Linked DNA regions of Homo sapiens. Each later gene encodes a partner of the first gene's protein in a complex. Each region holds a gene or a part of one and is shown in the gene's direction. Other genes may lie near its edges.

Region 1 (7,746 bases):
TGGAGGGGCTGGGCAAGGCTTTCTTAGCCAGCTCTTATCTTGCATTTGAGAACCAGCACCCCACTGCTGCTCCCCCACCCCTGCCTGGGATGGGAGAGAGCTCACGGATTGGGGCCCTTGGGGCTTCGCTGCACCCCGGTGCTACAGTCACGCGGGCCGGTGGGAAGAATGCCAGCCCTCTCCTCCTTCTGCCCCTAGAGCCCTGGCAGCCTATCGGACTGCTGCTGTGTGACCGGGGCAAGTCACTTAAGCTCTCTGAAGTGACAGACGTTCCTGAGCAGACAGAGGGGGCGACCCTGGCCAGATGCTACCCAGCAGAAATGCTTTTAACGTTTTTAAAGCTGTCCTGGGACAAGAGGGGAGGAAGGCTTAACGATGTGACTGTGACTTCTGGAGTGGGGATAGGGTTATTACCCAGATTGCAGCCGCCCCTTTACCCTCCTCTCAACCGGTAAATGAAGGGGGTCGCTGTCTGTGGTCTCCCACAAACGGCCTGGCTTTTGCAATTAAACGGCTATAGGCAGGCGAGAGGGCAGGGGGTTCCGTTTGGGGAGGGAAAAAAGACACAGATGGTAGGGACGATAAGATGCTAGGGAGATGGGCAGGACCCACCCCCCGACCCCAGTCTAGAGTCTTCTTCAGAAGCCAGAGGCACGTGACTGGCACCAGTACCCTGCCCCCACGCTGTAGAAAGGAGGAAGGAGAGCTGGGGGTTTTCCAAACTCTGGGCAAATAAGCCCTGGACCTGGGAGCGCGGGAGTGGACTATGGAAGGAGGGAATGAGGGGGATCCAGGAAAGAGGGTGGGGAGGGGGTGCTTCCTGGCTAATGGTTGTGACTCAGAAAAGAGAGGAAGGAAAAAATGAAAAGGAAAATAAAGTGGAGTGGGGGGAATGACTTGGCAAGGGTCTCTGGTTAAAAAAAAAAAAAAGAAATGGTGGCCGGGCGCAGTGGCTCACGCCTGTAAACCCAGCACTTGGGGAGGCCGAGGCGGGCAGATCATTTTAGGTCAGTTCGAGACCAGCCTGGCCAACAAGGTGAAAACCCATCTCCACTAAAAATAAAAATAAATAAATAAATAAAAATTAGCCAGGCGTGGTGGCGGGTGCCTCTAATCCCAGTACTCGGGAGGCTGAGGTGGGAGAATCGCTTGAACCTGGGAGCCAGAGATTGCAGTGAGCCAAGATCACGCCACTCCACTCCAGCCCACCAGCCCAGGTGACAGAGCAAGACTCCATCTCGAAAAAAAGACGGGGGAGAATGAACTGGGAAGTTGGGGTTCTACCACTTCCTCTAGGTAGTATTCAGTATTGCCTAGTCTGGTCCCCCCCATGAGGATCCCGGGGACCATCCCAGGCCTCTTGCTGACCCTTCCTCCTGTTCCTGTGTCAGGCACCTGTGGGCTTGGCGCTTCCTACTTGAGGTTAGACACTGCCTGTTTTGTTCACTTCGCATCCTCCAGTGTCACCTGCAGCACCTGGCACAGAACAGGCTTAAAAAGTACTTGCTGCATGATAGAAGAGAGGAAGGAAGGACTCTTGTGGAAATTAACTAAAAACACACGGGGCACAGTGGCTCACGCCTGTAATCCCAACACTTTGGCAGGCCAAGATGGGAGGAATGCTTAAGGCCAGGAGTTCAAGACCAGCCTGGGCAACATAGCAGGAGGCCATTTTTACAAAAACATTTTTTTTAATTGCCAGGCGTGGTGGCGCCTGCCTGTGTTCCCAGCTACTCAGAAGGCTGAGGCAGGAGGATCACTTGAGACCAGGAGGTTGACGCTGCCGTGAGCTGTGTTGTTGCCACTGCACACTCTAGCCTGGGTTACAGAGCAAGACCCTGTCTCAAAAATAAATAAAAATAAGCCGGACATGGTAGTTCACACTTATAATCCTAGCACCTTGGGAACCTGAGGCAGGCAGATTGTTTGAGCCCGGCAGTTCAAAACCAGCCTGGGCAACATGGTGGAACCTCATTCTTACAAAATATATATATGTACACATATGTAATATATTATATATGACATATAATGCATAAATATATGAATAGTATGTATATTATATATAGCATATAATATATAATATACATAACACAAATTAGCCTGGCCTGCTGGTACACACCTGTAGTCCCAACTACTCGGGAGGCTGAGGTGAGAGGATTGCTTGAGCCCAGGAGGTGGAGGCTGCAGTCAGCCAAGATCATGCCACTGCACTCCAGCCTGGGCAATAGAGTGAGACCCACTCCCTAAATAAATAAATAAATAATCAACATAAAATGGGAGGAGAGAAGGGACTTTGAGAAATGTATCCTTAATACAGAACCTCATATAGGGTCAGGATTTGGGGATATGAGTAATCCCATTTTACAGACTCAAATAATAATTGTGATGTAAAAGGAATAAATGTGTTCTGCTTATAAGAGTGTTCGAACATGGGCCACACTCAATTTAGTAAGCAGTGTGAATATGTGTGGGCATTTAATTCTCACAGTAACCTGGGCTCCAATCACCTCCATGTGAGCAAGAAACTGAGGCACAGAAAGACTACACCTTCTGGTTGAATGACATAAATAACAGATCTAGGATTCTTTTTTTTTTTTTTTTTTTTTTTTGAGACAGAGCCTTGCTCTGTCACCGAGGCTGGAGTGCAGTGGTGCGATCTCTGCTCACTGCAAGCTCCACCTACCAGGCTCAAGTGATTCTCCTGCCTCAGCTTCCCGTGTAGCTGGGATTACAGGCACCCCCACTGCACCCAGCTAATTTTTGTGTTTTTAGAGGAGATGGGGTTTCGCCATCTTGGCCAAGCTGGTCTTGAACTCCTGACCTCAGGTGATTCACCCGCCTCAGCCTCCCAAAGTGCTGGGATTACTGAGCCTGGCCAGCAGATCTAGGATTCTAATCTACCTGTGCTGACGTAAGTCACCACTGCCCACATGTGATTACTGACCATTTGAAATGTGGTTGGTCCGAACTGAGATGTGTTGTAAGTGTAAAATACGCATCAGATTTTGAAGATTTAGTATGAAAAAAAGTGCAATTTTTTTTTTTTTGAGACGGAGTTTCGCCTTGTCACCCAGGCTGGAGTGCAATGACACGATCTCGGCTCACCACAACCTCTGCCTCCCAGGTTCAAGCGACTCTCCTGCCTCAGCCTCCCAAGTAGCTGAGATTACAGGCATGCGCCACCACGCCCTGCTAATTTTGTATTTTTAGTAGAGACGGGGTTTCTCCATGTTGGTCAGGCTGGTCTCAAACTCCCGACCTCAGGTGATCCACCCGCCTCGGCCTCCCAAAGTGCTGGGATTACAGAGGTGAGCCACTGTGCCCGGCCGAGTGCAAAATATTTTATTAGTCATCTTTTTTTTTGTAAGAGTCAGGGTCTGGCTGGCTGGGCGAGGTGGGTCATGCCTCTAATGCCAGCATTTTGGGAGACCGATGCAGGAGGATAACCTGAGCCTAGGAGTTTGAGACCAGCCTGGGCAACATGGCCAAAACCCATACTTAAAAAAAAAAAAAAAGCTGGGTGTGGTGGCGCGCACCTGCAGTTCCAGCTACTCAGGAGCCTAAGGTTGGAGGATCCTTAGAGCCTGGGAAGTCAAGGCTGCAGTAAGCCATAATTGCACCACTGCACTCCAGCATGGGTGACAGAGCAAGACCCTGTCTCAAAAAAGAAAGATGTTTTGCACTGTGTTTCTATAGGACAGTGCTAATCTAGGCCATGCAGTATTTGCACTGACGTTACTCTCAGCGCACAGGGGTGGGAGGATCTGGAAGGTTTATAATTTATGACTTCATTTCCACCAACTCTCTGTAGAACCTTGGGCAAGTCATACCACCCTCTGAGCCTCAGTTTTCTCACATGTGTAATGCGGTTATATCAGTATCTACATCATAAAGTTTTGGGGATAAATGAAATACTACACGTGAAGTACTCAGTTCTGGGCTAAGTACTACCACATACGAGGTAGTCCACACAGGTTAGGTGCCACCTTGACTTACTAGGTGAATTCCTTTTCCCTCTATAAAAAGGGACGGTACCTACCCAGCCTTCCTTTGAAATTTTAAAAGTAGCTGACATCGCCAAAATGACCATCTCTGGAGCCCACCACCCACCGCCTCTCCTAGGGCAAGAGAGAATACCAGAAGGGCAGAGGGTTCTGTAACCCAGAGACGGGGAAGTCCAAGGTCACACAGCCCGCTCGAAGTGAGGCTAGATAAAACTCAAAACAGGGCGGTGCTTCTGACCTTGAGATAATCAATTTTACCCCTCTGGTCAACCAGACGCCATTGATGGAGCCAGGGTGGAGGTGGGAACTGAGTCCCATGCACCTTTTGCGGCTCCGTCGCCACACTCAAGATGACGACACATTGAGCCCTGTTCTACAGTTAGACACATTCAAGATGGCGGTACACACTCCGGTTCCGGTTCCGGTGGCTCAGCTCCCCCCGCCCACCCGGGCCCGGACACGCTGAGCACACTGGAAGGAGTCATGGCGGATGGTCAGGTGGCGGAACTGCTGCTCCGGCGGCTGGAGGCGTCTGATGGCGGCCTGGACAGCGCCGAGTTGGCGGCTGAGCTGGGCATGGAGCACCAGGCGGTGGTGGGCGCCGTGAAGAGCCTTCAGGCGCTGGGCGAGGTGAGCCGGGCCCGTGATGCCGGACCGCCTTGCCCTTGCACCTACAGTCCCCTTGCCACGGGCGCTCTACGTCCAAGCCAAATTCCCTCAGGCCTAGTTTGGGGTAGCTGTATATGTGTCCACTCCGGGATGTGCGGGCGGGAAGTGGGACGAGTGAGGGCCCAGACGCACGGATGTTCCTCATGCAATAAACGTTTATTGAGGCACGGTCAGCGTGGGTAGAGGGTACGATGATGGACGAGGAAGTCGCGGTTGCTGCCCTCACGCAGGTTGCGACGTAATAGGAAGGTGCTTCAAGAACCAGAGTGATGGGGGAAAACAGGGGACCCAGCTGTGACAGCTGACCCAGCCTTGGGGGTCAGGGAGAGCGGCCTGGTGCAGGTGACGGCTGAGTCTGTTCTCTGTTGAGGAAAGTGATAGCACTTTAGAGATCAGTGGCCGGGATCTTGGGGGATGGCAGGCGGCAAGGGAGACCAGCATAGCTGTAATTGCAAAGCCTCTTAGGTCTTTACCTCATGAGGGAACTGGGAAGCGATAGCAGGAGCTAGAGCCGGTCAGATGAGTGTGCTATCCACATCACCTTTGGGAAGAATTGGCATGGACAGGACTGGAGGTGAAGGGATGAAAGAAGAAGCTGGCACTTCCCCAAGCTGGAGGGCATGATGTCTGGCTATGGGAAGGAAGCTTGGGGGAGGTGGGGAAGGCGTGGGATTCAGGACAAGGCAGGGGGCGCACAGATGAAGTCCAGCCTTCTGACTTGGGCAAGTGGACAGTGACAGAGTCACAGGCGTAGGATGCTGAGGGGCCCGTGGGCCACCCAGAAGGCTAGATCCATGGGGCCAGGATCTGGGCTGTTTATCCGTAGAGCTCATGTTCTGTGCCCCACTTTGGTCTCAGCTTGTTTGTCCAATCCATTCCATAATCCTGGCTGATGGCCATGTTATTCCCATTTTGCAGATGTGACAACTGATGGTCAGTAACATAATCAGTGTGAATAGAAGAGGCCGATGAGCCCAGATTTGAAATTAGGCACTCAGGCTGCAGAGCCCATAGTCCTCAATGCAGAGGAGAGATGGCAGCTGTGTTGTGTGGGGTGACAGTGCCTTGACCAATATGATCTGACATTTGTATACGTCACAGAGGGTTAAATAATATAAGGAGGTGAGGTTCAATCTAATGACAGTAATAGCCATAAAAATAATTATAGTAATTAGAATTTATGCCGGGTGCAGTGGTCACACCTGTAATCCCAGCACTTTGGGAGACCAAGGCGGGTGGATCACGAGGTCAGGAGTTCAAGACCAGCCTGGCCAAGATGATGAAACCCTGTCTCTACTAAAAATACAAAAAAAAATTAGCCAGGCGTGTTGGTGGGCACCCGTAATCCCAGCTACTTGGGAGGCTGAGGCAGAGAATTGTTTGAATCGGGAGGTGGAGGTTGCAGTGAGCCGAGATCGCACTCCAGCCTGGGCGACAGAGCGAGACTCCGTCTCAAAAAAAAAAAAAAAAAAAATTTATGCAGTGTTTGTCACGTGGTAGGCACTATATATTCTTTCTGAGTATTAATTTAGCTACTCCTTAAAATCATCTGAGGTAGAACCCATCACACCTTTCTCTTATGGATGAGAAGAGTCACTGAGAGGTTAAGCAACTTTCCTGAGGTCACACAGTAAGTGAAGGGCAGAGTTGGGATTAGAATGAAGTGGGAGCCAGGCCCTGTGCACTCTACTTACCCTTGTTGTCCTTGTCTTCATGACTCTGGACCTGGAACCTCAGTTTTTGTTTGTAATGTGGACCTCCAGGGCCCGTCTCTGACATTCTGGGCACTGACATGTGAACATTTAAACATGGAGACAGGCTGGGTATGGTGGCTCATGCCCATTATGCCAGCACTTTGGGAGGCTGAGGAAGGAGAATCACTTGAGGCCAGGAGTTTGAGACCAGCCTGGACAACATAACAACACCCTGTCTTTAAAAAGTAATTTAAAGGGCCGGGCACGGCGGCTCACGCCTGTAATCCTAGCACTTTGGGAGGCGGAGTCGGCCGATTACGAGGTCAGGAGTTTGAGACCAGCCTGGCCAACATGGTGAAACCCCATCTCTACTAAAAATACAAAAATTAGCTGGGGGTGGTGGTGGGCACCTGTAATCCGAGCTACTCGGGAGGCTGAGGCAGGAGAATCATTTGAACCCGGGAGGCAGAGGTTGCAGTGAACCGAGATCGCACCATTGCACTCTAGCCTGAGCGACAGTGCAAGACTCCGTCTCAAAAAAAAAAAGTAATTTAAAAATTAACCAGGTGTGGCGGCACATGCCTGTAGTCCCAGCTACTCGGGACTGGCGGAAGGATCGCTTGAGCCCAGGAGGTCTAGGCTGCAGTGAGCTATGATCACACCACTGCACCCAGCCTAGTGACAGGGTGAGACCCCCTTTCAAAGAAAACAAAAACAAACAAAAAAATGTGGAGACATATCAGTTCACCTAATTTTTCACATTAAAATCTGTCACAGGTTCAAAACCGACAGAATTTGTCTTCTGCCAGGTAACATCTTTAGTGGTGTACTTTACCCTGGGAGGTGTAAACTATCATTATTACTACCCCTGTGTTACATAAGGGAAATGGAGACACAGCAAGGGGAAGTCTTTCCCTTGAGACCACTTGGCTGTAAAGTTGTATAGCTGGGATGTGAACCTAGCTTTAAGGGCTGTGCTTTCAACCTGGGACCCAGCGCTGCAGAAAGGGGGTGCCTGGCTCTGAGCCTCACCCCTGCCTGGACACCCTCCCCACATTTCCCTCTAGGTCATCGAGGCTGAACTTCGGTCCACCAAGCACTGGGAGCTTACTGCGGAGGGCGAGGAGATTGCCCGGGAGGGCAGCCATGAGGCCCGTGTGTTTCGAAGCATTCCCCCAGAGGGCCTGGCCCAGAGCGAGCTTATGGTAGGAGCTGCGGGGTGAATGGGGAGTGAGTGATGGGATGAAGGTGGCCCTCGTGCCCCACTCACTGCAGCCTCTCTTTTCCAGCGACTGCCCAGTGGCAAAGTGGGCTTCAGCAAGGCCATGTCCAACAAGTGGATTCGGGTGGACAAGAGTGCGGCTGACGGGCCCCGGGTG
Region 2 (7,274 bases), on another chromosome or scaffold:
CCTCACTAATACGGTGGAGTTATATACTGTTTGAAGGAGACTGAGTACCAAATTCATCATTGCATTTCTCCACCTGGAAATGGTAAGAAAGGAATATCTTCATCATGCTCTTAGACTTAGTATGATGGACACTGTGATATTGGAATTACTCTTTCTTGGTCATATCCATCTGCTTGCATAGGACGAGACTGAAAATCTTTAGCAGGATTTATAAACGTCTTTGGAATGATGTAGCACAACAGTGTTTTACTGTGGGGAATGGGGAATGACTATCTGAAAGGGAAAATTGTTTGGCATTTTATATTATTTCCAGGCAGTGCAAACTGTCTAGCAAGTAGAATGTTCATATATGAATCTAATATAGCAAATTTATCCCTCATAATACTGTTTTTGAAACATCAAGTTTATTCTCAATGTGTGGCTCTAATGACAATTTCTTGGGAACGTAATAGAACTGCAATAATGACTAATGGAAAAGACTCTAAAGCTGTATCTGATGGGAAATGATTTACTTTTTAAACTCTTTCTATTTAAGGAATTAGCTTACCGAAAGGAGATGGTGAGAGCTGACCTAATTAACAAAAAAGTTGGAATCAGGTATGCTCTGAAAACTTCACTTAATTCAAGAACAAAGTACACGTATGACTAATTTTTTTTTTGCGATCCTTCAGAGTCTGTTAAGGAATGATAAAACATCAGTTAAGATATCTGGTTTCTGATAGAACTCAAAAAGAAAGGTTACTGTTTCAGCTAGTAGCATATGTTGAAACACAATGTAAACATTAAAAAAATAATCCAATGAAGTTTATGGTTTGTTCATTCCTTTTTCAGAGAAACTCCAGAAAATCTTGCCAAACTTCTGACCAGGATGTATTTAAAATCAGAAGTCATAGGTGATGGGAATCAGATTGAGATTGAAATCCCTCCAACCAGAGCTGACATTATCCATGCATGTGATATTGTAGAAGATGCAGCTATTGCTTATGGATATAACAACATTCAGATGACTCTCCCGAAAACTTACACCATAGCTAATCAAGTAAGATTGCACCCTTAAATAAACACTCCTTATTGTTAGAAACTGATTATTTAATGCCAGGAAGGCTTCGAGAAAACAGAACGTAGGAATCAAGCAGTATTTGGACATGCTCTGCAATGAGAGGCATTTGCTGTGGAGAGGATACAAAACAGATGCCCAAATGATTAGAGTAAGTTGAAAACCTGTGATGACTAGTTCTTTGAAGAAAGACAAGTTTTGAGTTTGGAGCCCTTGTTGAATCTCTCAGAGATTCATTTTCTCAACTTGGGCCTGAAGGCAGAAGCTGTGTGTGGGAGAGATGGAAGTGGGGGTGGTTTGTACATCTGTGTAGGAGCAGAGGGGTGGCAGAGCGGTGGGGAGGGAGGAGGTAATATTGATAGGGAAATAGTGGCATTAGCAGTACGTTAGTAAGGGTGAAAAGGTTTTTAATCTTTTAAACATTTTTATTTAAAAAAGTTTTAATGGCATGTTCTGTATAAATCTCCCTTTTAAAAAACAAGAAATAATTGCGGTGAAATCAAGTGGATGCTTTTTTTTTCAGTTTCCTCTTAATAAGCTCACTGAACTTCTCCGACATGACATGGCAGCCGCTGGCTTCACTGAAGCACTTACCTTTGCCCTGGTATGTCTTACATGCTTTTTCTGCCCAGATGATTATTTACTTAGACTCTCTGAATTATTTATTCTATGATGCTTTATAAGAATTTATAAAATCTAGACTGTTAGAACTTCCAGATTCTGGAAGAATAACTTTGTTACTTGAGATTATACAATTCCTGGTAAAGTAATGTTGAAGCTTTTGTTTTTACAGCCACAAAAGAAAATGAAGGCCTAGAAAAAAATACCTCAAATGAGAGATGACAAAGTATTTTATAGTTTCATGTGAGTGTTGAGAGTTCACAATGTATTTCATAACCAAATTTATTAAGTTAGAATATTTGGTCTTAATTTGGTTATGGCTGTGCCCACTAGATGCCGTCCTGGGTAAAGGCTTGTGGACTGTTCCACATTAAATTAATTTCTTTGTCTTTGAACATGTTCACAAACATTTGCTTTGAGTTGAAAAGCTGACATAAAAGGCCTAAATCAGGAAATGACTTTTATTACAAAATCAGAAGGAAATTTCCCTCCCCCACCAGATTGACCATTTGAAAGAATAAAATGTGTATGCAATTTGTAGTTCCGTTTTTCCCTCTTGCTGAGCATTTCTGTGGTGCCTGCAATGTAGTTCTTGAGCATTCAAGTATGTTTAATCTATGAGGGGAAAGGAAGCTTCTTCTTTTTCTCCCCTGCAACTTAGCCCTACCTCTGAAATTCTCAATATTTTAGAGTATTTAAGGGACTCTACTTCTAGTTTGCTTAATAAATATTAAGCATTAAGATTTTTCTGATTCAGGAGTCATTCATTCAACATTTGTTGAGCATTTATTATATGTCAGGCACTGCACCAATGAGGAAGCCTGAGGCTGAGAGAGGATAAGTACGTAGCACATTTTACACGGACAGCAGGAGAACTGCTGTGTTCCAGGCCACCATACCTGCATGATCTCATTATATCATGAGCAGGGTCCTGACCTTTAGCCTCCTAGAACAGTGCTTTTCCATGGTCTCATACCGTGTACACTAGGTCTGTAATGCCATGTCATTCATCTTTGCACATATATATACACACATTTGTAGTTGTGAGCATCCAGGATTTCATATAAAATGAAGTACCAAAAATAACATTGAAAAATATATTTTTATTTTTTAAAACATATGAGTGTCACAGGAATACATCTTATTTTAAAGGACTCATACTTTAACCATGTAGATTAAACCATAACAGTTCTTTTCCCCACTTCGAATCCTCTTTTCCTCCCCAGAAACAACTGCTGTTAAAACTTGGGTATGCATTTTTCCCTGCCCTTTTATATTAGTGGTGCCAGTTTGAAAAAAGTTACTTATTACTTTATCCTTTTTATACTTATACTTTATACTTATTACAATATCCATTGCCAGTTTGATTTTGTGACCTTAGAGCCTCATGTGTCTTCGAAGGAGCACAGAGGCCGAGTCTTGACTAGTGGCTGCTCTGCAGGGAATGTTTACCCTGTGCCAAGGGCTTTGTGTACATGATTCCATTTCTTCTCAGTATACTCCTGTGAAGTGGGCATTCCTGTCTTTCACAGCAGTTAATTTAAGTAACTTGTCCTACGCCATGGCTGTGGATCAGGGATTCCCGCCCATGCCTGTCTGCATCCAAGGCCTGTGACTGAACTGTCACACCAGGGATGTTAGAAACAGTCTGTTTAGCTGTCCAAAGTCACTTTAATACATTCAATGTTTATCACTGGGGGGAAGAGAAAGGAGTGAGCTCCTAGAGGGTTTCAGATTTGTACTAAATTTTCCTGTAGGAATTTCAACATTAAAGATGTTTATAAAGATGTTTATAGGCAAGCCTAAGCATCGCTGAGCAAAGATGGTCTATGTTGTTAAATCCAGTTTTGCACAAGAGTAACAGCCATTTTTTTAAGCCTAGTCTCTGACTTTCTAAGTGTAAATAATTCACACTTCATCATATTGATTTTTGCTATATCTGCATAGTAGTTGTAATATTTTCTTTTAAATTGGCTCACTTTTAAGTTGGCTTATGTACTTCAGCCTTGTTATAGGAATAATATCTGTAAAAACTATAAGGTTCATTTACTTGTTGTATTTTTCTAACACATTAAAATAAACACATAAATATTAACATTAAAAAAGTTCCTGGCAGGCATGGTGGCTCATGCCTGTAATCCCAGCACTTTGGGAGGCCGAGGCGGGCGGATCACTTGAGGCTACAAGTTCGAGACCAGTGTGGCCAACATGGCAAAACCCCATCTCTACTAAAAATACAAAAATTAGTCGGGTGTGGTGGAGGTTGCAGCAAGCCGAGATTGCACCACTGAACTCCAGTGTGGGCGACAGGGTGAGACTCTGTCTCAAACAAAAAAAAGTTTCTTACTGTGTACTAACTACTGCCACTTCAGGGTAGCTTAATTTAAATTGCCTCTTGTCACTATCCCTTATTATCCATTGCCATGATAAAATACAAGTTCACTCAGATACACAGCTGCGTTGCCATGTGTCTGCAGAGTGTTTTTCTTTTACACAGAGAGGACTAGTTTCATTTGAGAATAGATTGCTTCATGTCAGTTGCATTTCATAATTAATCAGTCACATTATACCTAAGTCTTGCTGTAAAACTTCTTTATGCTGTGGGGAAAACGCTTATCCCCAGTGTGCATGTCACCATTCTCCATCTCAGCAGCTGTAGCAGATCCGGGAGCTGTTTTCTGCTATGGCTGGATGTGGCTTCAGGATCTTTCTCAAGAAAGCATGGCAAGAATCACTAGAACTGACATTGACATGAAATGAATTCTTTTTACCATTTCAGTTGATGTGTATCATTTTGTTTTAATAAGTGAAATACAGGCCAACTAGCCTTTGAAAACTAGTTGTAGAACAGCATAATGAACAATATTGCCTAACATTGGACAATAGTACAATAATCTGATGGTACATCAGTTTTTGTGTTACGTTTTAAATGCTTTTTCAAAAAGCTAGCATTAATATACATGATAATAATTTATCCTTAGTAATGATTTGTCAGTTATCATCATTGTTGGTATTTTTTGAGTGCTTACTCTGTGCCAGGCACCATACTTGCATTATCTCATTATATCATTTATTATTAGACTTGATGTATCTAATCGTCAGTGAGTTTTTAATTTCATAACTTCTGCCTACAATGCTGGTTTCTGAGGGTGGCAAGCATCTTTCTCTTCGATTGGTGGGTACTCAGCAGTTTATTTGTTATGAGTTTCAGGCATGTGCACAGAAGTTAAGTGATACAGTAAAGAACACTGGGCAGAGTTCCAGTCACTTGAATTCTGTTGTCAGTCCTACTGTTCTGCCACAAGTCAGTATGGATTTAGCAAGGGTTATAATGGTAGTCAAAATGGAAAGTCATGAAATACCAAGGAGGGAGAGAAAGTTTCTGACTAGAGTCATTAGGAATATTATGGAAGAGAGGTCATTTAAGTCAGCCTTAGGGAATGGTAGCAGGTGAGGCTGGGAGGACATTTCAGGTAAGGTAGGGAAACATAAGGTTTAGGGAATGGCTAGGGCATCATGGGAGATTAGATTGGAAAGGTAAATGGGAAACTAGCTTAGGAAGGGCCCGAGTACAGTTTATACCATCTCCATGTGAAAAATTTACTTTAGCTCTGTATGATGGCTAGGACTCATTGTGAAAGAAGTATTAATGTTAAATTCCATCTGCTATGGGCCTGAGATTGATGTGTATTTATTGTTAGCTTATTCTTTTTTTGTTTGTTTTTTATTATTATTATTATTACATTTACTTCAGCTCACACCAGGCCTATTCTTAACTTGCTGATATGTGTAGAGAATATAAATTGCTCTTAGAAGTTGACTTACAGCATTACTTTTTATTTTAAACTTAAGTAATTGCTTTTCCATATTAATCTGTTTTGTGTGTACTTCACAGTGCTCCCAAGAAGATATTGCTGATAAACTAGGTGTGGATATCTCTGCAACAAAGGCAGTCCACATAAGTAATCCTAAAACAGCTGAATTTCAGGTAAGAATTTTAAGTAGGTGAGAATTCATGTAAAAACCTAGAGGTAGTACATGAGTTAGGAAAAGTCTCTTCAGTTATTATACCTGAGATGGTGAAATCTTAGAGCTTTTTAATAATATCTTCTTGGGTAAGTTTATAGTTGGTTATTACGTGCTTTGCTGCCAAAAATTCTTTACACTTTTAAAAATAATATCTTCTTGATTAACTTCATACTGGGTTCTTACTTGCTTTGTATTATCTGGCCCAATCTCTCTTGTCTGAACTTTCCATTTCATAATTGATTTTTTAATACTATTTTCAGATTTCATTTTTTTTTTTTTTTTTTAATTTTTATTTTTTGGGACAGAGTCTTGCCCTGTTGCTCAGGCTGGAGTGCAGTGGCACGATCTCGGCTCACTGCAACCTCTGCCTCCTGGGTTCAAGCGATTCTGCTGCCTCAGCCTCCCAAGTAGTTGGGATTACAGGTGCATGCCACGATGCTTGGCTAAATTTTTTTTTTTTTTGAGACAGAGTCTCGCTCTGTCGCCCAGGCTGGAGTGCAGTGGCGGGATCTCGGCTCACTGCAAGCTCCGCCTCCCGGGTTCACGCCATTCTCCTGCCTCAGCCTCCCAAGTAGCTGGGACTACAGGCGCCCGCCACTACGCCCGGCTAATTTTTTGTATTTTTAGTAGAGACGGGGTTTCACCATGTTGGCGAGGCTGGTTCTGAACTCCTGATCTCAAGTGATCCGCAAAGTGACCTCAGCCTCCCAAAGTGCTGGGATTACAGGCATGAGCACCTAGCCAGGTTTCATCTCTTTTCCATTCATTTGTAATAAATGAATCAAAACCTGTTCCCAGTTCCTTCGTAAGTCATTCACTTTGAAATTGCCCATTATATCAGTTCTTGACTGTGCTGCTTATGTCTTTTATTGTAATTGTCTAAGTTTATTGGCAGTTTCATTTAGAGGTTAGGAATATTTAAATGAGAATGATACTGCTTTAATATTGAGTATTAAGTGATTTGTGTTATAGACTAGGATATTAACTATAAAGGGAGGGCATTTTAAGATTATAACATCTTTGCTTATTAATAACTTTAAATAGTTCTCTTTTATACTGATAAGCTCTTGTGCTGTTTCTCTTGCATATGCAAGTCTGTATGTTTTTTAACCTAGATTTTAGAGAAAATCATGTCTTCTTCTAGAATCAAGGGGAATCTTAGAACTGGAAGGTTATATTTTAAAGAAGGTTAATGCTATTATAAATAATATCTGAATTCTGATTTGAAATAGTTTCTTTGGATTTTGGTTTTTACTTCTACAAAAATAAGGGACTGGGTTAGTTCTAAAAAGAATTCTAAAAGTTCTAAAAGTGTTTAAAACTAAATTTAAAAATTCTAAAGTTTATCTATAGAACCACCTGCTAATGTTGTAGATTAGAGCTAGACTAATTAAAGAACTAATTGGTAATATATATCAAGTATATGAATTCTTTATCTATACTTAGGGTCAGAACTTTGAAGAATCCTTATACTAATTTTGGAAGGATTGTAGTAATGAGTTGTTATATTTTATTTTCTGAGGTCTAGTTTCCTATTGCTTTTAAAGTTTGCCCATGGTGTTCCTTT

Evidence for each region.
Region 2: the proteins of FARSA (region 1) and FARSB are in contact, whole or in part, in a crystal structure (PDB 3L4G), measured with the Homo sapiens proteins. Residues at the interface, in NP_004452.1 of Homo sapiens: Ser221, Gly222, His223, Leu224, His225, Leu227, Leu228, Arg231, Ser232, Arg235, Leu239, Gly242, Phe243, Thr244, Glu245, Pro247, Asp249, Asn250, Phe251, Ile252, Glu253, Ser254, Phe263, Gln266, Gln267, Phe277, Phe278, Leu279, Arg280, Asp281; in NP_005678.3 of Homo sapiens: Glu26, Phe29, Gly32, Leu33, Pro68, Ala69, Asn70, Ile150, Arg152, Asp259, Thr261, Lys262, Arg305 (codon at 548), Lys316 (codon at 581), Lys317 (codon at 584), Val318 (codon at 587), Gly319 (codon at 590), Ile359 (codon at 944), His360 (codon at 947), Cys362 (codon at 953), Asp363 (codon at 956), Glu366 (codon at 965), Ala369 (codon at 974), Ile370 (codon at 977), Tyr374 (codon at 989), Asn375 (codon at 992), Ile377 (codon at 998), Gln378 (codon at 1,001), Met379 (codon at 1,004), Thr380 (codon at 1,007).

The regions. Positions count from the first base shown.
Region 1 is NC_000019.10:12,930,438-12,938,183, reverse strand, and holds the start of FARSA (phenylalanine--tRNA ligase alpha subunit), read left to right. Parts: upstream 1-4,472; 5' UTR 4,473-4,487; coding exon 4,488-4,634; intron 4,635-4,887; exon of another isoform or gene 4,888-5,035; intron 5,036-5,146; exon of another isoform or gene 5,147-5,214; intron 5,215-7,434; coding exon 7,435-7,572; intron 7,573-7,637; exon of another isoform or gene 7,638-7,656; coding exon 7,657-7,746.
Region 2 is NC_000002.12:222,618,037-222,625,310, reverse strand, and holds part of FARSB (phenylalanine--tRNA ligase beta subunit), read left to right. Parts: intron 1-535; coding exon 536-597; intron 598-831; coding exon 832-1,039; intron 1,040-1,580; coding exon 1,581-1,661; intron 1,662-5,573; coding exon 5,574-5,666; intron 5,667-7,274.